4 linked regions of the Homo sapiens genome follow. The protein of the gene in region 2 interacts with the protein of the main gene of each other region in a pairwise test. Each region holds a gene or a part of one and is shown on either strand. Other genes may lie near its edges.

Region 1 (7,905 bases), on a different chromosome or scaffold from region 2:
AACAATTTCTTAAAGGAATCTCAAAAATTCCAAACAATAAGCACTGAAAGCTGGCTCTTCATTTTCATTTTCTTTCCTACCCAGAGCCCTATTTGATCAAAAATTGGCTCTTTAATCCATTGCAAAATATCAGGTAGCTTTTAATAACTAACACTGCTATAAACCACCATAACTGTTCTTTTTCCCATATCAATAGTATTCACTTAATTAAAAAATATCTGAGGGCACAGAATATGCGGATAACTGCGCTGGATACTGGGGACACCAGGGAACAAAACAGACAAGGCCTCTGGCTCTTCTAATGGACAGCTGGGTGCAACTCTAAAAATACTACTCTATGATTTGACAGGATATTTACCAAAGCCCTTCACTACTCTACACAATTGTAACAACATTTTCTTCCACCTCTTCCAAACTTGTAAGAACCTTCACCACACCCCCCTCTAAAACACGAATACTTCCTTTGGTAACAGCATTCCACTTTACTGAAGAAGGTGTGAACGTGTTAACTAGAACTACAGCAGATTTTTAAACTGACTTTACCACTCCTCATGGCCTGCGGCAAATCTCAAGAACTTTTCACAATACATAGTAACCCTTCCTGGTTCACAACCCGGGTCTCAAATGATTGCTAACACACCCATCCTACCCTCCACTAGAAATCTGAGTCAGATGGTTTAGGAGCAACCATAATGGTGGGAAGCATCTTCAGTGGACCCCTTTATGAGCCAGAAGCCGACTTACTCCCTCTCCTTCTCTGTTTATTTCCTCTGGATCCTTCAATATATCTCTGGATACAGTATATCTCCAATTAATCAGCATCTAATTTTATCAAGTGTGTTCCTAATAACTTGTTTGCAAATTAACTTTTGGCAACAAATCTGTTTCCCCTACATAAATCCATTATATTTTAAGAGATGCTCAATTTGCATCTCTTTAAGTTTCTCATGCTTCCCCTTCTCCACCTCTTAAATTCTTAAAGATCTATAAACAAAAGCACCCTGAGAAGTCATAATTAATGGGACTTCTTTGGAATACCCAACCTAAAGCAAAAGTTCACATGCCTTGCTGACCAGAATCATTCACGGAGCTTTGTAAGGACAGATCCCCAGGCTCTATCCTCAGAGATTTTAATTCACCAGGTCCTGCATGAGTTCGAGGAATTTAGGTAGTCCATAATATTTCTAATGACCAGCCTTAAACTAGACAACCACTGAAGAACCTGGCCTATGAGCTGAGAAACTCAGGGTTTTTTATGGCTGGTCATTAACGACAAGCGGGGCTGTACCACTGTGCTGGTCACTTGAAGTTCTCTGAGTCACCTGAAAATGAGGGAGTAATTGGAGCCAAAAGAGGTATTCATAGGCAGCCAATCTAAAATTCTAGAATCCTCCAAATTTAATTTAATATCACATACTATACTGGGTTTACTCAAAACAGTGTCATTCTGGCTGGCGGCAGTGGCTCACGCCTATAATCCCAACACTTTCGAAGGCCAACGCAAGCGGATCACTTGAGGTCAAGAGTTCCAGGCCAGCCTGGCCAACATGGTGAAATCCCCGTCTCTACTAAAAATACAAAAATTAGCCAGCCGTGGTGGCGCACACTTGTAATCCCAGCTACTTGGGAGGCTGAGGTGGGAGGATTGCTAGAACCTGGCAGGCGGAGGTTGCAGTGAGCAGAGATCGCACTACTGCACTCCGGCCTGGGCGGGAGAGAGAGATTCTGTCTTAAAAAAAAAAAAAAAAAAAAAAAAAAAAAGTGTCATTCTGTAAGCTCTTCTAGCCTACCCAAGTCATAGGCCCTATAAAGGGAAGACTTTCTGCATGCCATCAATGTCTCCTGTCCTACTGAACAGCCCTGAATCTGAAAGGGGAAGGTCCCCACCACCTCTCCATGGACAAATCACAAACATTTCACATTGAAAAAAATAATAATAATCTCCTGTAATTCAACCCAGGCCTCTTATGGCATTACCATTCACATATGAGAAAGTTGAACCTTAACTAGAAAAGTATATGGTTTTGGGGTTTTGTTTTGTTTTGTTTTGTTTGTTTGGGTTGTGGAAAAATAGATGTCAGAATCAAGATACTACAACAGTAAGAATTTAGGCCTGGGTCTGGAAAGGACATTTGAACATCAATATGTAATAGCAGTCCATGTCCAAAACTCACAAGTGAGATTATCAAATTCCAGGGGAGTCTATTAATGTGGCCAAAAAATCTACCCCATAATTTTGACATAAGTTTTCCAGTCCAAAATACAACCTACAGTATCATCTTATGGGTCCGGAAATGCCATACATCAAGCAAAATTACTACCGGAGAAATAACACTGTAATCATTTGCGGAGCAGTCTGACCAGGGTTCCCTCAGTTACGCCAACCGCCCCCAATCATCCTACCCACCTAAGTACTACCAGGTCAGGGGGATGCCCTGCTGCACGATCGGGCGGTCACTCCTCCTTTCCACAAGGCCCAGGCCCGCACCGTTCGCCCCGGGGCTCCCATGGCCCCTGACCTCCAGTATCCGGCAACGATGGACCGCCACAGACCCGGCAGGGGGCGAAGGGCGCACACCCACCTCCCGGGAGTTCGTGGGAATAACTCCGGGCGCTCCGAGGGTACGTCCCACACCCAGAGCCGCACGGGCCCATCCCCGCCAGGTCTGGGAAGGCAGCCCGAGCCCGGGACCCCGCCTCCCCCGCATCTAGGGTCCGGGCCGAGCTCGGCCGCCGAGCTCCCATTCCCACTCCCACACCCAGCGCCTCCCCCTGGCGGCGACAGCCGCCGGGGACGCCCCTCCCCGGGCCCCGCACGCAGTCCCCAGCCCTCCCAGGGCGCTGCCTCCTCAGAGGGTGACAGCCGCCTGGCCAGGGCCGGGGCCGAGGCCGGCCCCTCCTCCAGCTCTTCCTCACCCGCCGAGGAGACGGAGGACGGGGATGGGGTTCTTACCGGGCAGCAGGACATGGCGAGGCCCTCCACGGCACAGTCTCCCCCTCCGCCACCCCACCAGGCTCCCTGCCAGGGCCGGCGCTGGGCAGCGCCTGAGCCGCTGGGACGTCTCGTCCGGCTGCTACTCCGCCGCCGCCGCCGCCTTCTCACAACCACAACAACATGGCGGCAGCGGCCACACAGAGCGCGCTCCCGACGCCGAGCCGGGCGACGAGCGAGGACGCGCGCGCACGCTCGGGCGCTGAGCCCGGTGTCCGGGAAAGGGGGCGGGTCTCCGCCGGTTGGACGGGGGCGGGGCCTGGACAGGTGGTCACGCCCCAGGAGATGGGCGGGGCTGCAGCTGGGGAGAGGCTCGCGAAAAAGCCCAGCGGAGCAAGAATGGCTAGACAGATGGGAAATGGGTGGAGGAAAAGAGATGACAAAAAAAAATCTGGAAGAAAACCAAAGGTGGTCCTACAGATTTTTAGGAGGCGTCTTTTCCAAGCTCTGTAACCCTGGGCAAGACATGGCTCACTCTACTTACCAGAAAAATAGAACAATAGTGGTATCTTCCACCTGCAATTGTGGTCAGGATAAAACCAGTTTAATATAATGCAAGTAAATATAGTGTTTTAGAAGTTGTATTCAGAATACAATTTCTTTTCTTTTCTTTTCTTTTTTTTTTTTTTTTTTTTTTTTTTGAGACAGAGTCTGGCTCTGTCGCCCAGGCTGGAGTGCAGTGGCATCTCGGCTCACTGCAACCTCTGCCTCCCGGGCTCAAGCGATCCTCACACCTCAGCCTCCTGAGTAGCTGAGACTACAGACTCACAACATCATGCCCGGCTAAATTTTGTATTTTTTGTAGAGATGAGGTTTCTGCCATTTTGTCCAGGCTGATCTCAAACTCCTGGGCTGAAGCAATCCACCCACCTCGGCCTCCCAAAGCGCTGGGATTACAGGCATGAACCACCGCATCCGGTCCAGAATACAATTTCAAACTGATTCAACTTCAGCTCCTAATCAAAAGCTCAGCGGGAAGAAGTGAGTTTTCAAACAAAGTAAAAAACAACTCCCCCAAAAAATTGTAACCTACCCACACTAGCCTGCAGAATTCCACAAACCAGGATTGCATTACCGTAGGCCCTAACAGATTCACCTCCTCTGAGTTGCCTTTTAACATTCTACCCTTGACTTTTCTGGAAACTGGGAGAACTAGTCAAATGAAATCTATTCCTGCGTCTGTTGTAAAGTTTTTCCACAGCACTTTCTGAAATTTATTTTCAATGTTTACTGTCATTTTACTCCACTAAAATGTAAAAGCTACTTGAAGATAAGGATCTTGTCTTGTTCGTCACTGTTTCCCCAGCACCTAGAACTGTGCAGGTTAAGTAGTAGGCAGTCGAATTTCTTGATTAACTAACAGCTGGCTGGGCGCGGGGGCTCACGCCTGTAATCCCAGCACTTTGGGAGGCCAAGGTGAGTGGATCACCTGAACTCAGGTGTTCGATACCAGCCTGGCCAACTTGGTGAAACCCCGGATCTACTAAAAATACAAAAGTTAGCTGGGCATGGTGGCGGGCGCCTGTAATCCCAGCTACTTGGGAGGCTGAGGCAGGAGAATAACTTGAACCCGGGAGGCGGAGGTTGCAGTGAGCTGAGACTGCGCCACCGCACTCCAGCCTGGGCGACAGAGCAAGACTCCGTCTCAAAAAAACGAAACTAAACTAACAGCTAACATTTATTCATACAACTCATCTAATTGAATCTTCACAACTTTAATAGGTAGATGCCATTATCTCCATATTACAGATGAAGAAAGTGAAGCACAGAATAAATTGCGTGTATTAAAACAAAATTCAAACCCAGCAGACAAAAAAAAAAAAAAAATACTGTGCTGTCTTACCCACCAGGCTGTACTGCCCAGTGCATGGACACAGTAGCCTGAAATAAAATCTCAAGTAAGAAATTACTTTAGGCCGGGCGCAGTGGCTCATGCCTGAAATCCCAGCACTTTAGGAGGCCGAGGCAGGTGGATTGCTTGAGCTCAGGAGTTCGAGACCAGCCTAGGCAACATGGCGAAATCCCATCTCTACAAAAAATACCAAAAAACTGGCCAGGCGTGGTGGTGCACGCCTGTAGTCCCAGCTATTTGAGAGGCTGAGGTGGGAGAATGGCTTGAGCCTGGGAGGCAGAGGTTGCAGTGAGCCCTGATTGTGCCACTGCACTCCAATCTGGGTGTCAGAGAGAGAAAAAAGAAAGAACGAAATAAATTACTTTAGAGTTAAAAGCTTGGAAAGCCCTTGCTTTACTACCAGAAAAACCGGTGTGCTTCCTGCTTTTTGATAACTGTTACGCATCTGATTGTGTCTCTCTTTTCACTCTGGCTTCCAGAAAGCCCAGGGCTAAATGTGAAGCTCAGCAATGACCTCTTCTTGGCCCTTGAGGGTCCACTCCTGCCTCAACTTTGCACCTGTATTTATATGTGGCTGCCCTGATTTTCCCTTTCTGTTCTATGACTGACTATAGGCTTAATGGAATGGGAGAAGAAACAGTAAATACTAAAATTGATGAATGATTTAAAGTTTTTTTATTTTATTTTATTTTATTTTATTTTTGAGACAGAGTTTCACTCTTGTTGCCCAGGCTGGAGGGTAATGGCGGGAACTTGGCTCACTGCAACCTCTGCCTCCCGGGTTCAACCGACTCTCCTGCCTCAGCCTCCCGAGTAGCTGGGATTACAGGCATACGCCACCACACCCGGCTAATTTTTTGTATTTTTAGTAGGGACGGGGTTTCTCCATGTTGGTCAGGCTGGTCTCGAACTCCCGACCTCAGGTGATCCACCAGTCTCGGCCTCCCAAAGTGCTGGGATTACAGGCATGAGCCACCGTGCCCGGCCTCTTTTTATTTTTATATTTTATTTTATTTTCAGACAAGGTCTCACTCTGTTGTCCAGGCTGGAGTGCAGTGGCTGGATCTCTGCTCACTGCAACCTCTACCTCCCAGGGCTCGAGCCATCCTCCCACCTCAGCCTCTTGAGAAGCTGGGACTACAGGCGTGCTCCACCACACCTGGCTAACTTTTGTATTTCTCATAGAGACGGGGGGTGGGGGTGGTGTCTCACCGTGTTCCCCAGGCTGGTCTCAAACCCCTGAGTTCAAACGATCCATCTGCCTCCGCCTCCCAAAGTGCTGGGATTACAGGGGTAAGCCACAACGCCCAGCCTTAAACTTTAAAAATTAAGAAAAAAAAAAAAAGGACTTTCCAACCTGTTTTTCCCATTGTCTGATAAACCAAGGTTCTCATCAGCCATTAAGCCCCCCCGCAGGGAAATTCCCTTAACCAGTCATCTGCTCAGGGAAAGGCCATAGGACGAACTGCCACAGGTTGGTGGCCTCTGATTGGACTGAAGCTAGCACCTGACTCCAGGACAGCCCACCCATAGGCCACCTAGCTTCCAATGAGAAGGCACAGGGCAAAGAGTTCTGCCAATAGGCAGTCAGCATACACTCAACCAATCCCACAGCTCCCCAATTCACCATGGGAGAGCGAAGGAGATGGCTTGTAATTTTGACCTCTTTTTAGACGGAATGTCATCGTGTTTGCCTTTTAATCTGGGCTAAATAATCTTCAATTGAATCTTCAACCAGTATTTGGGACATAGGAGGAATTTCTCTATGCCCATGAAATCACACTATTTGCACCTTCTCATTTTCATAATAGCTAACATGAATTGGAGTGAGTGGCTATTCACCGACCAGATATCAGCACACTACAGCTTCCAACTCCCCGGCTCCAGCAACCCTCCTGCCTCGGCTTCCCTACTGGGTCTAGAGGTATTCACCACTGCAACTGGCTGGATTGAACCTTTCAATTGTGGCGGGCGCTATACGAGCACTTTACATGTATATCTAATGTAATCTTAGGCCGGGCACGGTGGCTCACACCTGTAATCCCAGCACTTGGGGAGGCCGAGGCGGGCAGATCACCTGAGGTCAGGAGTTCGAGACCAGCCTGGCCAACATGGTGAAACCCCATCTCTACTAAAAATACAAAAATTAGCCAGGCATGGTGGCAGGTGCCTGTAATCCCAGCTACTCCGGAGGAAAATTGCTTACTCAGGAAAATTGCTTGAACCCGGGAGGCAGAGGTTGCAGTAAGCCAAGATGGTGCCTCTGCACTCCAGCCTGGGTGACAGAGCGAGACTCTGTCTCAGAAATAAATAAAATAAAATAAAATTTAAAGGTAATGTAATCTTTACAACAACACTATAGGAAGGTATTGTTACTGTCCTCCATTTTACACATAAGAAAGTGTAAAGGTCAGGATTTGAACCCAGAAGATTTGACTCCAAGTTCATGCTTGTCAACTTCATTACTACACCTCATCACCACTGCTGCCCACTTGCTTACCTTTAAGACAGACTTTAGTAAATTATTTATAAATAAGAAAGAGAAAACTGCAGCATGGCCTTGAAAACTCACCTCAAGAAGAAGGGCCTAAGGAGACTCAATAGAAAGCTGGTCTGTGTCTAAAGACTTAAATTTGAATCTTGTCGCCTCCTCATATCTGCTTCTCTTTTCCCTTTTCTATGCGTCAGTTTCCTCATCGCCTTCTAGGGTGGTAATCACTAACCTACTTAACTCATGTTGGCCGGTCTCCGTGGCTCACGCCTGTAATCCCAGCACTTTGGGAGGCAGAGGCGGGTGGATCATGAGGTCAGGAGATCGAGACCATCCTGGCCAACATGATGAAACCCTGTCTCTACTAAAAATACAAAAATTAGTCGGGTGTGGTGGCACGCGCCTGTAGTCCCAGTTACTCTGGAGGCTGAGGCAGGAGAATCGCTTGAGCCTGGGAGGTGGAGATTGCAGTGAGCCGAGATCACGCCACTGCACTCCAGCCTGGCAACAGAGCGAGACTCTGTCTCAAAAAAAAAAAAAAAAAGAAAGAAAAGAAAAAGAAAAAAGAAG
Region 2 (7,327 bases):
CGGCGCTTGTTAGGGCTGTGTCAGGGTTGAGCCTCAGAGATGGTCTTGTGGTGTAACCCCAAATGCGCTAGGATTGGCTGCAGCAGGCTGCGTCTAACAGTCCCCAGACCTCGGAGCCACGCAAGCGTGGCCTTGGGATGGGCCTCGAGTGATCCTCACCATTAGGGAGTGGGAAGGCCTGTGGTGACCCTGTCAGTTAAGGCAAAGTGACACCTGTCACACTGGGAAGCTCCAGCGAGGCAGGTTTTCTCTTTTCGTTTGGCGACAGGAAGGTAAGTGAAGTTTGTTTCTTCTGCGGTTCTACCTCAACCGTGACCATCACTACCACGACCACAATGGGACGCTCCCACAGCCACAAGCCTTGAGCGTTTATGCTCAAAGAAGTGGGACAGACACATGTTCGCTAGGACTCTACTCTGAACCCCACACCCCGGGCGCACCTTCATGACGGGCTGGGCAAAATAGCGGGCGCTCCAGTCGCAGAACCCCGTCTGCACCGTGGCGGAGATGAAACTTTTGTGTCCAGCAGCATCGTCCGCGTCGTCCGCAGTCTTCAGGGTTTAAGCAGGAGGGTTGGAAGGAAAAAGAAACACCAGTCAGTCATGCCACTCCTGAGCTCAAAAGAGCTGCAGCTGGGGACAAAGGCGCTGCCGGGAGCACCGGGCTGCCCCTAAGGACGGCACTTCTGTGCTCTGCTCACTTCCGTATCCTGGTGACCAAGAACCCCTGAACGTCTGGCCAGGGATTGAGGGGCCCGGGCTGTGAAGTGTGAGCCACGTCGGTCCCACCATCCCCAGGGCCGACCCAGCACAGCTCCCAAGTCAATTCTAACTGACTGTTCAGACAATGCCACGTGCGTCCATGTGTGCTGGTTTATCAACCCCCAAAAAGCCTCTGCCGCTTGGTTCCAGGACAGCTCCTGTGATGGCCCCGTGACACCAGACTGAGAGCGGGGACTCCCATGTGAAGTGGCCTGGACGGAGCGCACAGCTTTGCAGGCCGGCTGGAGCTCCCAGCTACTGGAGAAAGAGGATGTGGAGCTGAGGAGGACTGAGCTTTGGGTGTTTCCTGTTGTGGAACCTGTGGCGGCCAGGGCTGTCAGAGTCTGTGTGTGCTTGTGGAGTGAGGCTGGGCACCAGGGGTCTCCTGTGCCACGCCATGTGGCCTGCTGGCGTCTCTCACGCTGTGTCTTGGCACAGGGAGCTCCCCATGATCTCAGGGCAGGTGCAGTGAGAGGTGCATCCCCCCCACCCCGGGGGGTCGGGTGGGTGAGCTGCACGTGCCGGTAGCATTGCTCCCCAGGGCCTGGCCAGGAGGCTGACCCTGCACTTGGGGCTCGGTGGTGATTCTCGCTCCTCCTCTGCCGAGACACGGAAAGTCCAGGTGGGCTGGGGCTGAGCAGCACCTGTGGGGACCTGTCCGCTCTTGCCGTGACAGCTCTTCTACCCCAACATGGCCGTTCCTGCTCCAGGGCATCCTGCAAGGCGGCCGCTAACTTCTTTTAAAATCACTGGATTACCAAGCGAGCCCCGGACCCCACTCATTGCTGAGATGATCATGCTGTCAGCACCCAGAGCAGCTGGGTGTGCTGGGTGCGCCCTGAACCACCTTCTTGAGCCCAGGTGCCCTCAACTGACAAAGTGGCAGCACCTGGACGAGACAGCCGAGGTCTCCGGACCAGCTGCCACCTCACACCACTCTCATAACCCTGGCAAAACAAAGCAGGCATTCCTCTCTCCAGAAATATCTTTTTCAACTTAGTTAAAGGCAAAGAGAGTGTACCTATTTATGCAGCGTACTTGGATGTTCACAGAAAAGACAACACATTCAGAACAAATGCTCTGCAGTGCAGCTGCCCCCAAGCGGACGCAGAGTGCTGTGTGCCCAGGAAGGGCAGAGCCAGGTAACTCCGTGCTCCTGTTTCGTTACATGGAAGCTGCCCAGAATGGTGAAACCAGAACCAGGGGCGGAGAACCGGGACACACCCAGCAGTGCTCCTAAAGAGTGCAGGCAGAGGGACCGGGACACACCCAGCAGTGCTCCTAAGGAGTGCAGGCAGAGGGGTGCACGAGTGAGGACCAGCACCCGGGTCTGCAAAGGCAGAGAGTGGCCCACAGACCCAGGACGGCAGGGTGGGTCCTGCCCCATCCCATGGTGATGTGAGCAGCCTGAGGCTGAGGCCATGAGCCCCCATCTGAGAAGCAACGCTCTCAGTGTCCAGATCACCAGGCAGCCGGGCTCCCGTACCTGCTCTGGGCCCTTGTCGAACATCTTCCGTGTCCGGGGGAACTGGTGGGAGTGAGGGGTGTACTGCGCCCCAGCGGGGCCTGTGGTGCCCGGCCGGCCAGAAGGCAAGTCTCGGCTGACCGGCTGCTTGGCCACATCGTTGGTCAGGCTGGAGCTGCTGGTGCTGGACGCCGGAGGGGAGCCCCTGCCATTGGAAGAAAAACAAACACTGCATCCTCTGCAGAGTCTGGGGCTTCGAGAGGGAACATGGAACAACTTCCTGGGCCACCTGCACCCTCCCAGGTGCCACCAGGGCCCGGGGTGTCCTCAGTCACCCAGCATGCCATCATGGCTCCCGAACCCCAGCTGCTGGTGCCGAGTCCATGCTGCTCGGTTGCCCGCCTGGCAGGGGGCAGGGTTGTCCCTCATTGAACTCCAGCACCCTGGGAGGTGGCGCGGACAGGACGAACCCAGCTCAGAGTCGAGTGGGCCGGGATGTGCGAGCTCAGCACACAGCAGTGCCACGTCCTGAGGTGCAAACACCTGTTGGTTACCCATTTGGAGATCTAGATCCCCTCTTACAAACTCTGAAAGGCCACAGAGACCAGGCTTCATTCAACTTTTGCTGAGATGATGTGCACATGAAGGGTTCCTCAAGATGGGGAGAGCTCAAGGCAGGGCTCAGATCAGGCGGGTACCGGGGTGTCCGGGAGGGAGAGGGAAAGAACGCCCGCTGGAGAGGGGGGAGGAGACGAAGCCAAGACAGGGCGGGGAAGGAGGAGGATGGGGAGGCCGGCTCAGGGACAGCTCAGCCCGTGGGGCCCCGGTCACCACCACGGACCTGCAGGCTGAGCGGGCGGCACTTACCCCGCCTGGTGGATGTGCACGCCCTTGTTGGTGGGGCTGGCGGGGGCCGACTGCGTGAGGGAGGAGGTGTCCAGGACGCGCTGCGGCCGGGCGTTCACGGTGGCCTAGGGGCAAAGGAATGGGGGTGTGAAGGTCAGACGGGACGTGCTCCGCGGAGGCCGCCACACGAAGCAGAGGCTGGCGTGGAGCCGCTTCAGAATCACAGAAAAGGCCTTTGGCCGAGGAAGCACCAACACCAATGGAAGGCCCCAGCTGGATCCCCCGCAAAGGCAATCCTGAAGCTCAAGTGGTATTCTTTACTCTTGGACATGCATCCACTGGGCTAGCCCTGGCGTGGCCGTGTGAGCCGGGATGTCTGGGGAGGAAGCTCTGCCTGAGGCTCCTGAGGGGTCAGGGCCTGAAGCCTCTGAGATGGATGACGGCCCACCCTCCTCACCTTCCCTGCCAGAGGGGCGGCTCCTGGCGGCCTCAGTGTCCTCCCCCTTGCCTGAGGCTGGGCCTCCACACTGTCCCAGCCTTGAGTCCAATTCTCCCCAACACCTCAGCTCTCGGGTCAGAGGCTGCGAGTTGAGGCCCGGGAAGAATCCACCAGCCATGCTCTTTCCGGAGCCGGGCGATGTGGCATTCACGGAGGGTCAGGGAGTGCTTCATCCACCCGGGACCTGGCCGGTGGGCACGGGGTGGAAAGCCACCAGCAGCCTGAGGCCTCCACGCAGGCCACTGTTTACACCCCCGTGTGCTTCAGGAGGCCACAGAAACTGTCAGAGAATGACTGCAGGGGGCTTGGGCTCTCTCCAGTGGCAAAATGGGCTCTGCTGCCTGGACTGTGACGGGGCCTGGAACTCAAGACCGCCCTTAACATCCTCCTGGCCGAGGGGCTGTGGTCATCCTTTCCCACGGGCGCACGCAGGTGGTGCTGGGTGCACTGCATGGACGGGGAACCTTCATCTCCAGGGCAGACATGGCTGAAACCTGCCCTGGGGAGGGGCGCACTGGCAGGGGAAGGGGATGGCTGCTCCCGGAGGGTGGGGAGCAGGGTGGTGCACAGCTGGCACAGCCTAGTGGGCAGCATGAGGCTCCAAACCACCCCTTCAACCCAGCCGTCTGTGGATGAAGCCAAGACCCTGGGCTCTGAGAGCCTCCTGCCACAGACACCTGCAGGGCTTGAAATTCTACCACAGAAAAAGATTTGTACCAGCTTGAGCCCTGGCATTCAGGAGGCAAGAGGTTTTGCTTTTATTTTTTAAAGCAGGGTTTTCTGTGGATCTGGAGACCAGCTGTCGGCGTTAGTGAGCAGCCGTGAGAAACCACGCAAGGCAGGGCGTGCGCTGCCCGGCCACCGACATGACCTCGCGAGGGCCCAGGTGCTTCGGGGTGGTTTTGTTCTGAGTACACTGCTCAGTGGGGGGAATGCGGGTCCCGCTGGGTTCTGGACTCCAGAGGCTGTGCGCGTTCAGAAGGGGCCTGATGGTGCTGGGGCAACCTCATCTGTGTCAGGAGGATGGGGCCAGCTGCTCCATGAAGGTGCCCACTGATCCCGCAGGCACAAGCCATTCCCTGAGCGCCGGCCCATCCCAGGCTGCGCTCCAGCCAGACAGAACCCTGTCCTTCAGGTCCGCATCCGCGTGGAGCCTGCAATGTCTCATGCTTTTAATTATTCACTTAGAATTTAGGAACCTTGAACCTGCAATTCAGCCAACAGAACACCAAGGAAAACAAAACGATCCTGAAGTCTTCACTCATGTAACACCCACGCTTCCCAGATTGTCCTTTCCTTCAAAACGCAAATAGCAAGAAAATGGAACCATAACTTGTCTTTAAGCAACGTTCCTATTTTTTAAATGACAAGAGTAATACATGTTCTTTCTGAGCTTGTTTTGTTTTGGTATTAAACTATTCGGCCAGCCCTAGACACATACAACCATCCCACAGAACCTGCCAGACATATGATCCCTTCAAAAGTCTAAAAAGAGAAAAGCAAGTTTTCGACTGTGAACTTTATATGTGCCTTCTCAAAATGTCTGGAAAAACAGTGGGAGGTGACGGGGAAGACAGAAAACTTCTGGAGTTGAAATGAAGCCTTTAGCAAAACCCACACATGCTCAGACGCTCACGGAGCACAAAGGCTCAGGCGCTGCTGGGCTGGGGCCGGTGACTCAGGAGCCCTGGGACGTCACGCTGAGCCGCCTGGGGTCTGTGCAGCTCCCGCCTTGCCACCCTGCACGGAAGCGCCCGTGGGAGTACCGCATGGAGCCGTGGTGACGAACCCTCTGCTCTGCCCACTCTTCCAGGCAGGGAACTGATCCGGGCCTCGGCATGAATTCTCGCAGCCCCTGGGGTTATAAGATGAGACCATCCTGCTTTCACATGGCTTGTACCTGGGGCTGCTGTCACAAAACTAATTTTCCACCACTTCTGGAAATCTCGTGAGACAGACACACACCTGGATCAGGAGCCCCCCCCACCCCCATTAGTGTAGTGACCACAGGGGGTTGGCCTGGAGGGAGCTTTCTTTAGCTGTGCACTTCTTATTTGTTCAACATTTACTCAGCGTTGATTGCGCTGGGTGTGGGGCCAAGATTGTGAACATGAGTAGCGTGTCCCTCAGAGGTGACCTGGCAGACCTGCCTGCCTGCGGTGTCGGTGTGAGGACAGGGTACGCAGCGAGCAGGAGCTGCAGAGCTGGCTGGGGCAGGGGCAAAGGCAGAGGACCAGGGAGAGTCCTTTCTGCTGGTCCCTGCCACCATCTTAGAGAGCGCAGCACCAGGAAGGGTGAACAGAGAGGGCACGGCAATGGCAGAGGCTGGGTTTGGAGATGCAAACTGGAGGGCTGAGTGCGGCCCGCACAGCCTCTGTGGGCCCAGGCCTGCCTGGAGGACACGGCGCCCTTCTCAGCATGTACACCCCCAGAGCCCCGGCTCACTCGCAGCCTGCAGAGGTCAAGGGTGTGCAAACATGCCCTCTAGGGAGGTCTGCGTCCAGAGAGGACGGCAGCTGTAAGAGGGTCAAGGTCCCGGCTACAAGACAGGGCCTTTCTTCCACTCCCCAAGCCAACCTTCGGTGGTGGCAGATACGACTTTGCTAACAGTCGAATGCTCAGCACAGACACTCTCTTGGGCCAGTGCGCACATGAACACGCCTGGAAGATGGAGGTGCAGGTGTCTTTTATCCACCCCCGACTGTTGCAGCTGCTGAAGCGGGGACTGGAATGAGACCCACCCTGTCTCCTGTTCCGGGAGCGCCACCTCACAAGGACACGGGGGCGTCTGATCCAATGCAGATGAAAATACCGTACATTTCAGAGACTTGGACAGTGAATTTTCCCACTGGATCTTGACACAGTCAGGGCTGCGGATGCCAGCGTCAGCTTCTGGCTGCTCTATCTTGGGAGGAAGTGGAGTATTTCAGAAATGTTCCTGTTAATTTTATATCGAGGATCTGGATTCATGTGTGAGAAACTCTTAAAAAGGGATTCCCAGAGGATTATCCAGAGGCACTTTTGGGCTAAGAATAGCGCAGAGGCCGCTGGCTGCTTGGTGGGGGAGAAGAAACCCCTGCAAAAGCGTGTGCTGCTATTTCTTCAAGTCATTTTCCTGCAAACTGCGTTTCCTAGATAAATCCTACGAACTCTTCTTTTGGAAAAGTAAGTCCTAGGTATTATTCCATTAAAGCAACGTGGTGACTCTTAACAAGATGCCCATTAGTTACAAAGGAAGCCTTAAGGAATTTCACTTGGGGCCACGGTGCCCTCAGTCCTAGGCGCTGCGGGAAGAGAACGCCGCGTCAGTGGAGGCCGAGGTGTCTCAGCCCACCAGCTCCTTCCCTCCTCAGACCCGGGTGTGTGGGAAGGCTCGGGAGGTTCTGGAGTTGCTGTGGCCCCTTTTCCACAGAGGATGGTGAGATGGCCAAGGAGCTGATGGCGACATAGACATGAGTGCTGATGATGCAGCTGGCTGTGTGGAGCCCTCTCTGCACCTGGGCGGCACAGGACACAGACACGAGTGCTGACGATGCAGCTTGCTGTATGGAGCCCCCGCTGCACCCAGGCAGCACAGGGACGGGGCTCTGCCTTTCTTACCACAGCCCTAGGGGGTGGGAGTCATACAATGATCCCAGTTTTAAGTTTTATAGAGGAGAAATGCAAGCTGAGAGGCATGAAGTCACTGGCTGAAAGCTAGCAGAACTAGAATGGGGCTCAGGGCAAAGCTGGTGCTTGTCCTTGCCTGAAGGAGCC
Region 3 (7,327 bases), on a different chromosome or scaffold from region 2:
TTTTTTTTTTTTGAGGCAGGATGTTGCTCTGTTGCCCATGCTGGAGTGCAGTGTCATGATCTCAGCTCACTGCAACCTCTGTCTCCCGGGGTCCAAGCAATCCTCATGACTCAGCCACCTGAGTAGTAGGGACTACAGGCGTGCATCACCACGCCTGCCTAATTTTTGTACGTTTAGTAGAGACAGGGTTTCGTGATGATGGTCAGGCTGGTCTCAAACTCCTGACCTCTAGTGATCCCCCTGCCTGAGCCTCTCAAAGTGCTGGGATTACAGGTGTGAGCCACCATGCCTGGCCCATTTTATTGGCTGAATAATATTACATGTACTACAAATATACAACATTTTATCCATTCATAAATTGATTTGGGTTGTTTCCACTTCTTGGCTATTATGAATAATGCTGCCATGAACATTTGTGTACAAGTTTTCCTGTGAATATATGTTTCCTGTCAATTTTTTAACCTAATGTTAAACTTTTAAAATTATAACTGCTTCTTGCAAGTACCTGCCATGAAATTTTATTCAGAATGGAATAAAAATATTTCTCGTGAAAAGATATATGAATGAACAGACCAGGCTATCATCATATGAACCACAAAGCACCACCTAAGAAGTACTCTGTCAACAAAGATGGACCTTAATCGAATCAGGTCTAATGAGAACGGCACTGCCAAACAGAACTTCCTGTGACAATGGAAAGGTTCTATAAGCTGTGCTAGCCAATATGGTAGCCATTAGCCCTATGCAGCTTGTGAAACAAGAAACTAAGTTTTTGATTTTTTCAATTATTTTTCCCCCTTAAAGGGACAGGGTCTTGATGTCTCCCAGGCTAGAGTACAATCGTAGCTTACTGAAGCCTTGAACTCCTGCACTCAAGCAATCCTCCCACCTTGGCCTCCCAAAGTGCTGGGATTACAGGTGTGAGCCACCAAACTTTTTCAATTTTAATTAATTTAAATTTAAATAGCTACATAGAGCTAGTAGCTACTCTAAGGATAGTGCAGTTCTAGGTCTTCTAATTACAGAAAGAGGGACAAACAAATAAGCATAAGGACATCACAAGGAAGCAAAATGACAAATCTAGAATATTGGACAATCTACAGGACAAGTGCTTCAGTTTCTGCAAAAAGTCAATGACATAAAAAATATATAAATAAAAAAGATAAGGTATAAAACTCTAGATTAAAAGACTAAGCAAGAAAACAACCAAATGGAAACTGTATTTTGCAGGTTGATAATGGCAATGTCATTTTATAAGAAAATGTTTTTAGAAATATGGGCCGGGCATGATGGCTCACACCTGTAATACCAGCACTTTGGGAGGCCAAGGTGAGTGGATCACAAGGTCAGGAGTTTGAGATCAGCCTGGCCAAGATGGTGAAACCTCATCTCTATTAAAAATACAAAAAATTAGCTGGACGTGGTGGCGGGCGCCTGTAATCCCAGCTACCCGGGAGGCTGAGGAAGGAGAATCACTTGAACCCGGGAGGTGAAGGTTGCAGTGAGCCGAGACTGTGCCACTGCACTCCAGCCCAGGCGACAAGGCATGTCTCTGTCTCAAAAAAAAAAAAAAAAAAAAAAAGTTATGTTGTAATTGAGTGCCTAATAAGTATCAGGTACTATAGAAGTATATAGAGGCCAGGCGCAGTGGCTCACATATGTAATCCCAGCACTTTGGGAGGCCAAGGTGGGAGGCTCACTTTAGATCAGGAGTTCAAGACCAGCCTGGCCAACATGGTGAAACCCTGTCTCTACTAAAAATACAAAAAATTAGTGGGTGTGATGGCACACGCCTGTAAACCTAGCTAGTCAGGAGACCAAGATGGAGAATCGCTTGAACCCATGAGGTGGAGGCTGCAGTGAGCCGAGATTGCACGACTGCACTCCAGCCTGGGCGACAGAGCGAGACTCCATCTCAAACCAAAAAAAAAAAAAAAAAAATGCAGAGAACAAAATGAATGCAATAAATATTCATGTAGCACATCTATCCCCCAGGTACTTGGATAGAAATACTGAATTCTTGGCCGGGTACAGTGGCTCACGCCTGTAATCCCAGCACTTTGGGGAGCAGAGGTGCACATATCACTTGAGCTCAGGAGTTGGAGACCAGCCTGACCAACATGGTGAAACCCCATCTCTACTAAAAATACAAAAATTAGCCAGGCACAGTAGTACACGCCTGTAATACCAGCTACTCGGGAGGCTGAGGCATGAGAATCACTTGAACCCGGGAGGTGGGAGTTATAGTGAGCTGAGATCATGCCACTGTACTCCAGCCTGGATGACAGAGCTAGACTCCATCTCAAAAAAAAAAAGAAAAAGAAAGAAATGCTGAATTCTTGTAAATCTCTAAATGACCTTTACTCCCATGCCTGAGCCGTTACTATTCGTCTGCCCAAAAGCCTCAGTTATCTCTCTCTGCATAACCCTACTTACTCCCCAGCCCCAAGGTCATGTGGCATTTATTCATCCTTCAGTTTTGAGCTCAGGCAATACTGAGTGTCCAAACAATTTCTTCAACTCCTCAGCCAATAGATTCTTCCCTCTGTGCCCCCAGAGCTTATTGCACATTTCTTTATTATAGTCCTCACGATTGTCTCTATTAATATTTTGAGGGTATGGGGATCAGCATTTTAAAAATAGTTTCCAGGTATTATTGGAAAACCTTTGACTTCAAGCAATGGACATCCCAGAGAGGGTTTTCCTTGAGGCACAAACGCCTGAGGCTACAGCTAGATTCTTCCCACCTACCGAGAGTTGCTTAAGAATTATGCTTAATTTTAATATTTGCCAATTTAATAAAAATTAAATGACACCTAAGTTTAACTTAAAGGCCTTTAATTACAAATAAAGTTGAGCCTTTTTTTTTTTCCATATTTATTGGCAATTTGTATTACTTCCTTTTTTTTTTTTTTTTTTTTTTTTGAGATGGAGTTTCGCTCTTGTTGCCCAGGCTGGAGTGCAATGGTGCGATCTCGACTCACCACAACCTCCGCCTCCTGGGTTCAAGCAATTCTCCTGCCTCAGCCTCCCAAGTAGCTGGGATTACAGGCATGCGCCACCACATCCGGCTAATTTTGTATTTTTAGTAGAGACAGGGTTTCTCCATGTTGGTCAGGCTGGTCTCGAACTCCTGACCTCAGATGATCCGCCAGCCTCAGCCTCTAAATGCTGGGATTACAGGCGTGACCCACCACACCCAGCCAGCAATTTGTATTACTTCTTTTTTCAACTGACTGCTCATGTATTTGCCACTATTTCCATTAGGAGAAATATTCTTTTCTTGTTGATGTGCAAATGTGCTTTATATGTTGAGAATACCAATCCTCATATATATATATTTGCTATTGCCATTAGTTTTCTAACATTTTTGTGCCTGTGATAAATTAATTTTAATAGTCAAATTTAGCAGTGATTTCTTGCTTTTTTCTTATTTTAAAAAATACCTTCACAAACCAAGATTAAAGAGCCACCTATGTTTTATTCTAGTACTCATGGTTTTATTTTTAACTGTTATATAAAAAGAATTATACATTATTTAATATTTTTTAAATAACCTTCATTAATATCGGCACTCATCAGAAAAGTCATATGTATTTAGGATACTGTCAAGTGGTAAACTCTAAGTTTTTTCAAATTCTAATTTTCCATGATAAACTTAAATTTTATTTCAGCCAACAAATGCTTGCAGCTACTTCCCTTGAAATGACTATCACAGTTCATCTGAGAAAATCTGTCAAATAGCCAATTCTGTTCTAATCTGTCTGTTAGCTGTTCTTTCAAGTTAAAAAAAAAAAAAAAAATGTCCAGGTGCAGTAGTTCACGCCTGTAATCCCAGCACTTTGGGAGGCTGAGACAAGCGGATCACGAAGTCAGGAGTTCGAGACCAGCCTGGCCAACATGGTGAAACCCCATCTCTACTAAAAATACAAAAACTAGCTGGGCTTGGTGGCAGGTGCCTATAATCCCAGCTACTTGGGAGGCTACGGCAGAAGAATTGCTTGAACCCGAGAAGCGGAGGTTGCAGTGAGCCGAGATTGTGCCACTGCACTCCAGCCTGGGCAACAAAGCAATATTCCATCTCAAAAAAAAAAAAAGAAATGGTGTTCCACAGAAAAAAATAAAGCAGTTAGCTCAGCTTACAACTCAAAAAACTACAAATGCTTTTCTTTTCTCCAAAATAACCAACACACTAGCCAGTATGCAGTAAAAAGTGCTTTCTCCAGCACTTTGGGAGGCTGAGGCACATGCATCGCTTGAGCTCAGAAGTTTGAGAGCAGCCTGTGCAACACAGTGAGACCTTGTCACTACAAAAAAATACAAAAATCAGCCAGGCATGATGGCGCATCCACTTGGGAGGTCCCAGCCACTTGGGAGGCTGAAGTGGGAGAACAGCTTGAGCCTGGGAGCCAGACGCCACTGCACTCTAGCCTTGGCAACACAGCCAGAATCTGTCTCAAAAAAAAAAAAAAACATTGTTTTATGTGAACTTCCCATTTCTTCACAAATATTTTTAAAGGAATACTCATGGATCAACATTTTTCAAAAATTAATCATTTTAACTGTTTTGTCAAGGACAATCTTCAATAAAAATGGCACGGCTTGTTTTTGTTCCTGTGAGGGCACAGAGGTAAAGAATGCCATCACCATGAGTACAATTTGGAGCTTAGCGCTGCCTTGATGTGTACCAAGCCAGCAGCAATTTTACCCACATGCTTTTGTACCAGAGCCAATGTCATCACTGAAAAACGCAAACATCTTTTATATTAGTATTATTACCAAGTAAATATTTCCTTACAAATACTAACATCTTAGTATTATTAGGATATTTTGACCTCATGGGCTACCTGAGAGGGTCTTGGTAACCCCCAGGAGTCTTTGGTCCATGCTCTGAGAAACAATGATCTCTAGAAGGGAAACATGCTAATTTGTTTTTTTATTTTTTTTCTTTTTTTTTTGAGACAGTCTTGCTCTGTTGCCAGGCTGGAGTGCAGTGGCACCATCTCAGCTCACTGCAACCTCCGCCTCCTGGGTTCAAGCGATTCTCCTGCCTCAGCCTCCCGAGTAGCTGGGACTACAGGCGTGTGGCACCACACCCAGCTAATTTTTTGTATTTTTAGTAGAGACGGGGTTTCACCGTGTTAGCCAGGATGGTCTCGATCTCTTGACCTTGTGATCCGCCCGTCTCGGCCTCCCAAAGTGCTGGGATTACAGGCGTGAGCCACCGCACCTGGCCAGGAAACATGCTAAATTTAAAGGTAGTTGATAAAGACTATGAAGGACACTGTGGATTCTGTTAAGTCAAAAGTCCTTTATCTGTCAGCTTCAGCATTTAGAACTATGCCATTGGCCAACGAAGTTTGTCCAAGACCCTACTTTTTCTTTTATTAACTTTTTTTTTCAGAGACAGAGTCATGCTATGTTGTCCAGGTTGGTCTCAAAACTCCTAGACTCAAGTGATCCTTCCACCCTCAGCACCCTGAGTAGCTGAGACTGCAGGCATGATCCACTGCGTCACCTGGCTCTGCTTTTTCTTCTTATTCTACTAAAGTTTAATTTAAAGATTTATTTTCATCAAGTCGCTTTCAACACAGGCCACCAACTACCCCTTTAACTTGCTGCCTATATTGGAACTGCTGTTTGACTCTGACCAAAAGTATTAGACATTCTGACTTTATAACCATACTTCACTGAATTTCTTTTAAGAGCAACAATATTTTTCTATTTAACAGTCCAAGATACCACTGGGGATGTATATTTGGAGTCTTTAAATATATAAATTCTGGAAGAATTAACTTATTCTGAATAAAACTGTTTAATTTTATCTACCTAGAAAACATACATAGCATTAATTGTACCATTAATTGTAAAGACATTTCAATTTCAACTTACTGCAAACCTAAGAAGAAGGCAAGACTTTCCAACCCCTGAGTCGCCAATCAGAAGTAACTTGAATAAATAATCACTGCAAAAAGAAAAAGAAAATGATGTTAATAAAAAGCACACTGCATTGCTATAAGCTATACAAAAACAAAAACACAGCTACAAATAACAACTCACTGTGAAGACTACATCTCCTATAAAGCCCATGCATGGCTTAAGCCAAAACTGCAAACAGCCACAGCCCTTCTGACAGATCACTAAACATGATAAAATTATGTAAAAAGTAGGCAATGCCACCTATGATCTCTAACATCAGTGAACTTCCACTTAAAAAGAAAGAAGGAAAAGAAAAATAAGTGATACGCACTCTTGGACTGCCCAAGATACTTAAAACATTCTAAATAAATCCCACTCCTCTATAGTATTAGAATACAGAAAGGTAACTTTTCATTGTTTTTGCCCATGAAATATTAGTCTCTCCTTCAAATTCTAAGATCAGGCCAGGCGCAGTGGCTCACACCTGTAATCCCAACACTTTGGGAGGCTGAGGCAGGCAGTTCACTTGAGGTCAGGAGTTCAAGACCAGCCTGACCAACATGGTGAAACCCCGTCTCCATTAAAAATACAAAAATTAGCTGGGCATGGTTGCGCATGCCTGTAATCCCAGCTACCTGGTAGGCTGAGGCAGAAGAATTGCTTGAACCCAGGAGGCAGAGGTTGCAGTGAGCCGAGATCGTGCCACTGCATTCCAGCTCCAGCCTGGGCAATAAGAACGAAACTCTGTCTCAAAAAAAAAAAAAAAAAAAAAAAAAAAAATTCCAAGATCAAATAATTTCATAGCACTCCTCCAATGAAGGGGTTCTCACGATCCTTCTCTAGCATCCAGCTTGAATTCTCCCGTCAAAACAATGTTCATATAACTTCTGAAAGCCCATATTATAAACTAGAAATGTGATAAATTCACAGGCTGTTTATCCAAGTGCAAAACTTGACTAACACTCTACACTTGTATTAAAGCATTTTTCAGAACCATTGAAAACCAAGCTTTTTTTTTTTGAGACGGAGTCTTGCTCTGTCACCCAGGCTGGAGTGCAGTGGCGCGATCTCGGCTCACTGCAACCTCCAACTCCCTGGTTCAAGTGATTCTCCTGCCTCAGCCTCCCGAGTAGCTGGGATTATAGGCATGCGCCACCACGCCCAGCTAATTTTTGTATTTTTAGTAGACACGGGTTTCACCGTGTTGGCCAGGATGGTCTCGATCTCCTGACCTCATGATCTGCCCGCCTCAGCCTCCCAAAGTGCTGGAATTACAGGTGTGAGCCACCGCACCCAGTGATAAAACAAGGCTCTCTTTATGTATCTCTAACATTGCCAGGCCTAACTCAAAAACTATCCCCAGAGATTCCTTCATGGAACTAAGACAACATTATTATTCACCCACAGT
Region 4 (7,327 bases), on a different chromosome or scaffold from region 2:
AACGTCACAGATATATAAAAGCTATTGGTACTGTTCTAGTTCCTGGATTGGGTAGAAAATTCAGGGATGTTCATTTTATTATAAATTGGGAGGAAAAAAACACGGCAAGACATGGAACAATCATAATATATCATGAACCAAATCATAATATATCATGAACCATAATATATCATGAACCAATATATCAGTGCAGCAATTCTAAACCAAAGATTATAATTAATCCAATTCTGCAAATCAAAAGGGAGGGGGGAAAAAAGGCAACAATTCAGAGTACTCCATAACATGAGAGGCTTGGAAAGCATTTGAATATAAGGTCTCTTAAAAATAATTTGCAGTAGAATAGCCAGATATACAGTTTTTTAATGTATAATTGATTATATGTAAATTAAGAATTGATGAAATAAGATGACATATCACTTTTTTTCCTGCAACTTTTATACTCACCCATTTTTCTTCTCTCCAAAAATATTTTCGACTAATATATTTAACAAAGATACTAAACACAGAAGATGAAATTTATAAAAAGGTTTATTATAAAATAAAAGAGCTGGATTATGGTTTAACTACAGTTAACTGGTTATTACAATCCCTGGCCCTCTTACCTCAAGCGAATTAGTCAGATAGACTATATTCTCCATAAGCACAGCCTTTTCATCAAATTCTAATTGCAAATCCAGAATACGAGGCCCCATCTTCTCCAGATTTTCCTAATAGCCAAAATGGTATGGAAAAACAAAATCACAGTAAGAATATGTTGGAAAACATACTTCCTCCAAAGTAATCATTCTTCTCTCAACTGATAAAATCTTCAGATTTCAGGAGTTAAAGGAAAGGCCTTGGACTCATGATTTCCTTTACCTACATTTGCTTGTTAATGAAATTTACTAGCTCCAAATAATTATCTTTTAAAGTATTATAAGATTATGGCAGCACTGAAAAGATGGGAAGGCACAAGGTTTTCAGATTTATAAAATAAATACGGTTTTATGATTGTTTATTTAGACTGACTTAACATGCAAGCCCAAAGAATTCACTTTACAGGGAATCAGCCAAATGTGTGAAAATATCCCTTTAAGTTACCCAAAAAAAACAAAATTTTAATTTTCTGAGATACCACCTTCTTAAAGCTGTTTCAGAGAATAGTGAATTAATAATATCCAAACAAAAAATCCCCAAAGATATTTCTGCAAAGTTTAAAGAAAAAAAACTCATACTACATGAGTACTCAAACATGGCATGTAAAAAATAATTTCTTATTCTTAATTTTCTTGGGTAGTCAATATTTGCTGTGCAAAATAGAATCCTAGAGATCCAAGTACATATGCAGATATAACTACCTAGAACATGTTATACTTAATGAAAGTGACCTGATATTATTCCTGCTACTCACTGTTTTCGCTTACTATGCAAGTTCTATTTCTTTTTCTCATGGAAGTGCTAGAAAGTCATTTTCTTATTCCCAGATGTATTAATCCCTTCCAAAATTTGCAAAACCACTAATTTGCCTGGCAAATCACCAACATAATTTTAAAAATATATTACCACTCAAACGGTCTGATGCTGGTTCTTCAAATTTAAATGAGATCCTAAAGAAGCCAACTCTTGAATCTAATATCATTTTATACACACACACACACGCACACACACACTCTATATATATATACATATACACATAACTACTTTTCAAATAGGTTTCCCTGGATTCTTTTAAAACATGTCATCAAAATTAATTGCCTTTGCAACCATCAATGGAATATTTTGTTGGATCCACATGTTGACAGAGATTTGGCATTATGACCAATGACACTAGCCACTGGGGAACCAACGAACTATGAACATACCAGCACTTACATTACAACTTGATTAGTGTAGGTCAACACAGGATTCTAAATTACTTCTGAAACTTAAAATACCCTGAGGATCAAATAGTGACTTTGGTCTAAGAGAATTAAAAACCTTTTCCAAGAATACTAATCTATTATAATATTGAAGAAGTTAAGAGGTCTGGTCTCCATCAGGCATCTGCAGCCAAGAAGACACAAGAATTAAAGGACAGTACAAGAATAACTACAATATGCTTAGTAGGCTGGAAGATACTAATTTGTATTTTTAAACAACATTTACTGAGCCTACTTCTTGACTAGTGCTACTTAAGTGTGTTAGGTACACTATTTTATTTACTCCTCACAGCACTCCTAAAAAGTTTGGTTCTATAGTATCCTCATTTTATGGATGAAAAATCCTGTAGCCCAGAAAATTTAAGTGATTTGTCCAAGGTCTCAAAACTAAGGAGTGACTGATACACAGAATTTCAACCAAGATTTTTCTGGCCCCATAGCCTGCGATCTTAAGCAATATAAGCCTTCTTTCGGTTTCTTTTTGTCAAGAAATCCAGTAATACATCAGCGACGTATATGAAGAAAACTAAGGGTCTAACCCAATAATTCTCAATGGTAAGAAGTGGAAGGTGATTCTGCCCCCAGCGGACATTTGGCAATGTCTGGAGATATTTTTCATTGTCATAACTAGCAGGAAAGGTAGTTCTACTGGCTTCTAATGAGTAGAAGCCAGGGATGCCATTACATATCCTACAGTGCACAAGAAAGTGCCCCACAAGAACTATCTAGCCCAAAATACCAACAGAGCTATGCTGAGACACCCTGGTCTAACCACTATAACCAATGTTTACCCTGTTAAGCTATACCTATACAAATGTTGAATCCTGGTTCCAGGAATAGGGTCTAGGAAATGCAAGCCTCTATAAGCCTAATGTAAGCCAAAAGAGTTTGAAAGAAGGGAAGGTAGAATATGAAGGGAATAGTTCAGTGCAGCCATTCTAAACCAATTTTTCTCCCACAATAATATTTTTCACATACTCAGCAATTCCACAAGTAAACCCAAAATCTGATAGATCATTTCTCTCAGTCATTGATTGAAAAGTGCTATTTTAGCAGATTTCTGGCAGGAGACTATGTCCAAGGCTTTTCCCCATCCTTCTATTGTCCCATCTAACCATTGCTCATGTGGTCACAGCTGCATAAGGTCCACAGCTTACCTTAATCATGGCAACAAATGGCATGACTTTCTTCATGTATTTCTTCAGTTCTGGCATACTGCCTAGTTCACTAGCAATGACTTTGTTGTCAGGCAGTTTTCCGTTATTGGCCTAAGAAAAGGAAGGAGGGAGAGTAATGTAGAAAAAAAAGTCTCAAGAATAAGGCAGAACAGTAGATGTGACCAGGCATAGAATGGTGGCCTCTATCAATCCTTAGAGAACAGCAGAAAAGTGTCCAGCCCTAGCATCACGGGGAAGTGAAAGCTCAATGAACAATGCAGAAGGAACTCTCCTATTCTCTATAAATTAACAACACATACTTTTTAGTTTAGAAGAGAAAAAGAAGTGATTTGTGTTGAATATTTCTCCTGTTCAGAAACTAAATGGTCTCATAAAAACTTGTTTTCAAATTTCTAAAAGCATTTTATTAGTCATATTAAAATAAAAAATTACACAACTATCATACAAGTTTATATAATGTCTGCTTTTGGACACTTGGAAGAAACTGTTACCACAATTGTGAAAAGAATCCCTAGCTACTGACCTGTTAAAAACAGAATCATTTCTATCTACTCAAAAATAAATGTCCATATCATATATCACTGATGAGTACAATCCAAGTGTGCTTTAAATGAATCTAAATTCATTTCTTTCTACAAATATTAACGGTCCCCTCAATAGAGTGAGAAATAAAGCAACTGGTCTTTTCAAAGTTTTGGGCAACTTGTTTTCTCTTTATTGTAAAAGAAGGGTTGGGAATGAATCTAAATGAAAAGGAACATATAATACAATTTCAAATAATCTATTTTCAATTCTAACTTTTACTAAAGTACATGGGAAAAAAATATTCTACTTGTTAATATATTCCTCTGAAACACACGAAAAAGAAAAAGGGTGGGAAACACTCCTTTGCCTTATGTCACCAAAATGGTGCCACATTCAACATAAGAACACTCTTCGTGATTATAAATGAACATTCTTTTCATTCCTGTGGATGAAAACATACAAAAATCTAAAAGACAGCTGCTAATGCCAAAAGATACCACTGTTTTCAATTATCTAGCAAATGAATAGTAAGTAAAAAAACAACTTCAAAAAGAACAGAGGTGATGCATTTTTTAATACCTAAGACATTACATATTATATTTGGGTTCTTCCACTGCTTCCTTGAAATTGCTGGTATGAATATATAATCCACTGAGGTAGTTTCACTTTTGTGCCAACCAAAGTAGCTTTTATCTTTTATTTACCTTAATTCAAAATCTGCAAGCAGATTCTAAAGGCCACCTTCTATTTCTATCATATATACTCAAAGGTGGAAATAGTTCTCCACAAAAATAGACTCACAAGAAATACAAAAACATTTGCTCTTCTCTATCAAATTTTACATATGTAAAAGCAGCTTTTCTTAGCATTTCTTAATTAACTATGAAAAGTGTTGAGGCAAAATTCCAATAATGGTCTAGAATATCAAAGCTAAGAATTTTTCCTTTACGTTTCTTCTTTACATTTTGACCACAATCCGTATTTTGTCTCTCTTTTTAAAGTGCACCTTAGTGGTCTGCATCTAGCAATAACTGTTTTAATAACCTAAGCAAAAAAGCCAAAGTTCATAAACATACTTTGTTTCTACATTTTGAATGCAGAGGAAAAATACATTTTTTTCTTTCAGGAAAACTTAGATCTAAGTTATTGAGTTCCCTTTAAGTGGATTTATCATTACCTGGCACAGCCAAAAATGTCTTCAAGCTCTACATTTCTATAGGTAATTATCAAACCAAACAACATTTAAAGTACTCAAGAACAAAGCTTCACTTTTTTCCAAACAATAAACAAGGTTACGATTTGAAATAATTTAATGAATGAATATAATGAATGAATAAATTTAATGAATGACTCCCACTGCTCAAGTTACAACAAATTCCAAAGGCAAACTCTGTCCTTTTATTTCATCATTTCAACTACACATATGAAAACCCCCAATTCTTTTGATTACATTCAACTAGATCCAATGTATTTTTGTATAAATTTTTCAGAAATGAGAGGAAAACAGCAGCTTTTCCCTCAGCATCCATTTAAGAGCCACCAAGAATAACAAAAGGATGCTGTCTGCCTAGAGGGAATGAAACAAAGCTGCCTATCTTTCTTCTCCCAGACATTGCCAACATCCTAAAAACAAAAACAACATAGGGAGCATACAACACCATCAGGGGGGAAAAGTCTACTGAGAGCATCACCTCAAAGTGTTTACGTAGAACAGACAGGGTGGTATGTTGCCAAGGTGGATAGTTCTTTGCCACATAGATGGTGCAATGTGAGGGCTTCTGCAGGGGTTGTTTGTCAGTCTTCTAGACGGTAAAAGAAAGGAAAAACATTCAATAGCTTTTATATAAACCAAAAATGAGAAGAACCCTCCCCCAACATACACCACCACGGTCTTCACCATTAATGAAAATCTTTTTAACTTTCATTATTGTTAAATGTTATCTGATCAATAACTTTTAAGGAATAATCCTTTAAAAAAAAAAACAAAAAAACTTTACCTTCCCTTTAGCTGGCATCATATAGTTCTTGAGTCGTAGTCTAAGGTCATGTGTTACTTCCATAAGATACTGTGAGGAGTGTATTAAAACTTCATTAACAGGACCTGCCACAGGCCATGAAGCATTCATAATTGAGTCAGGCTTTTAAAAAAAGAAAAACAAAAAAACCTTCAGTGAGATTAGACAATATAACTATTTTACGGTTCTTGATTATAGTTTCATACCAAGGATACCATCTGTAATTGTGTGCTCAGAGTTCAAACTTGACTACACATAACACACTTGCACAGCCCCTGATCTAATGTTCCCTAGAATTCAAGCTGTGAAGTCTGACTCTACATTCTTAATTAGCATCCATTTGTACAAGCATATTAATACCCACACACATATGCTCACTTTCAAAGAAAATTATGTAATGCTAATTTGCCTAAATTTAATCATTATTATATAAATTATGCATACACTCAGTTTTTATCCTGCTAATACATCCAGTATTCAAGTACGGTTATTTGGTATATAGATCATGAGCACATTTCTGTATTGTTCATGCATTTAAAAATACAAAAGAGCCTAGCTAATATGGCTGGAAAGGAGTTATTAAACCAGCCAATCTATTTATCTGTAAGCCTGGGAGAAATAACTGAATTTATATTCATAGTAAGAATGCTACTATCCCTGAATATTAAGTCCTATATATGCCAGAAGTTTTATATAAAACAAGAATACTTACACAAATATACACAAATATACACCTATATCTTTGTTTTTAAGCAGCTCATAACAATTGTTTATATCTTTCTCAATATTTTCACCTTTTAAAAATATGTATGCACTGTTGTGTATATAAATAAGGGCACATATATCCATCTGAATAGGAGATAGCTCTGGTTTAACCCGTCATAATTATGATGCTGAATCCAGCATTACTCTTGAATTACTCACTTTCAGACTTTCTCTCTTAAGTAACAATATTAGCACAACACTTATTTAATGAAGCCAAAATCAAAACCACTCGAAACATTTTAAATGCATGAAGGTACCTTTCCCAGGAGTGTCCAGATGTGCTCACACAAATGTGGACAGAATGGAGCGAGGAGAAGTGTCTGAACTTCAATAAACCGGAACACAAGTTCTCTGTGCATCCCTTCCACAGCCAATTCACGGTACTTATCTTTTGCGGCCTATAAAATTTGAAATTATTTACCATTTCCCTCACCTTCTTTAAAATAAAAATAAAGGGAAAAATTGCAGTATCTTGGTTTTAACACATTTTTAAGTTTCTAGTCTTTTAAAAATCCATAACAAATTACTGTAAAGGTTTTACTTTAAGAATCTGCAAGTATTTATCTTTGTCCAAAGTATATGGCAGTTTTATACTAATAATTCTCAAAAAAAGAATTTTTTTACAGACAGTTTGTAACTGAGACATAAAAGTTGAACAACTTTAACTGTATATTAAGGGTGACTGCTCTTAGCAGCATATAGGATATTAAATATAAAAAAAGACTATAAATACAACACATTGCTATGCCCAGCCATTTATCCTTATTTAACCACAACTCTGAAAACCAAGTTATATAAAACTCAATGTGATATTTTACACAGCTCATTGCGTAAAGCTACATTTTTACTTTAAGCACTTTAAATGCCAAACTTGAGGAAATACTGACACCTTGTGGAAAACCTCAGAAAACGCTTGCTCTCAAATTAATGGCAATTAATTACAATT

The links.
Region 1: the proteins of RPTOR (region 2) and MTMR3 interact in binary tests that used the Homo sapiens proteins (3 or more experiments, as listed by UniProt).
Region 3: the proteins of RPTOR (region 2) and RAB1A interact in binary tests that used the Homo sapiens proteins (3 or more experiments, as listed by UniProt).
Region 4: the proteins of RPTOR (region 2) and LARS1 interact in binary tests that used the Homo sapiens proteins (3 or more experiments, as listed by UniProt).

The regions. Positions count from the first base shown.
Region 1 is NC_000022.11:29,878,408-29,886,312, reverse strand, and holds the start of MTMR3 (phosphatidylinositol-3,5-bisphosphate 3-phosphatase MTMR3), read right to left. Parts: upstream 3,140-7,905; 5' UTR 2,954-3,139; intron 1-2,953. UniProt on the Homo sapiens protein: Lipid phosphatase that specifically dephosphorylates the D-3 position of phosphatidylinositol 3-phosphate and phosphatidylinositol 3,5-bisphosphate, generating phosphatidylinositol and phosphatidylinositol 5-phosphate.
Region 2 is NC_000017.11:80,918,594-80,925,920, reverse strand, and holds part of RPTOR (regulatory-associated protein of mTOR), read right to left. Parts: intron 3,198-7,327; coding exon 3,094-3,197; intron 2,432-3,093; coding exon 2,248-2,431; intron 552-2,247; coding exon 441-551; intron 1-440. UniProt on the Homo sapiens protein: Component of the mechanistic target of rapamycin complex 1 (mTORC1), an evolutionarily conserved central nutrient sensor that stimulates anabolic reactions and macromolecule biosynthesis to promote cellular biomass generation and growth.
Region 3 is NC_000002.12:65,098,842-65,106,168, forward strand, and holds part of RAB1A (ras-related protein Rab-1A), read right to left. Parts: intron 5,966-7,327; coding exon 5,893-5,965; intron 1-5,892. UniProt on the Homo sapiens protein: The small GTPases Rab are key regulators of intracellular membrane trafficking, from the formation of transport vesicles to their fusion with membranes.
Region 4 is NC_000005.10:146,123,380-146,130,706, forward strand, and holds part of LARS1 (leucine--tRNA ligase, cytoplasmic), read right to left. Parts: intron 6,780-7,327; coding exon 6,639-6,779; intron 5,740-6,638; coding exon 5,599-5,739; intron 5,404-5,598; coding exon 5,293-5,403; intron 3,167-5,292; coding exon 3,056-3,166; intron 708-3,055; coding exon 603-707; intron 1-602. UniProt on the Homo sapiens protein: Aminoacyl-tRNA synthetase that catalyzes the specific attachment of leucine to its cognate tRNA (tRNA(Leu)).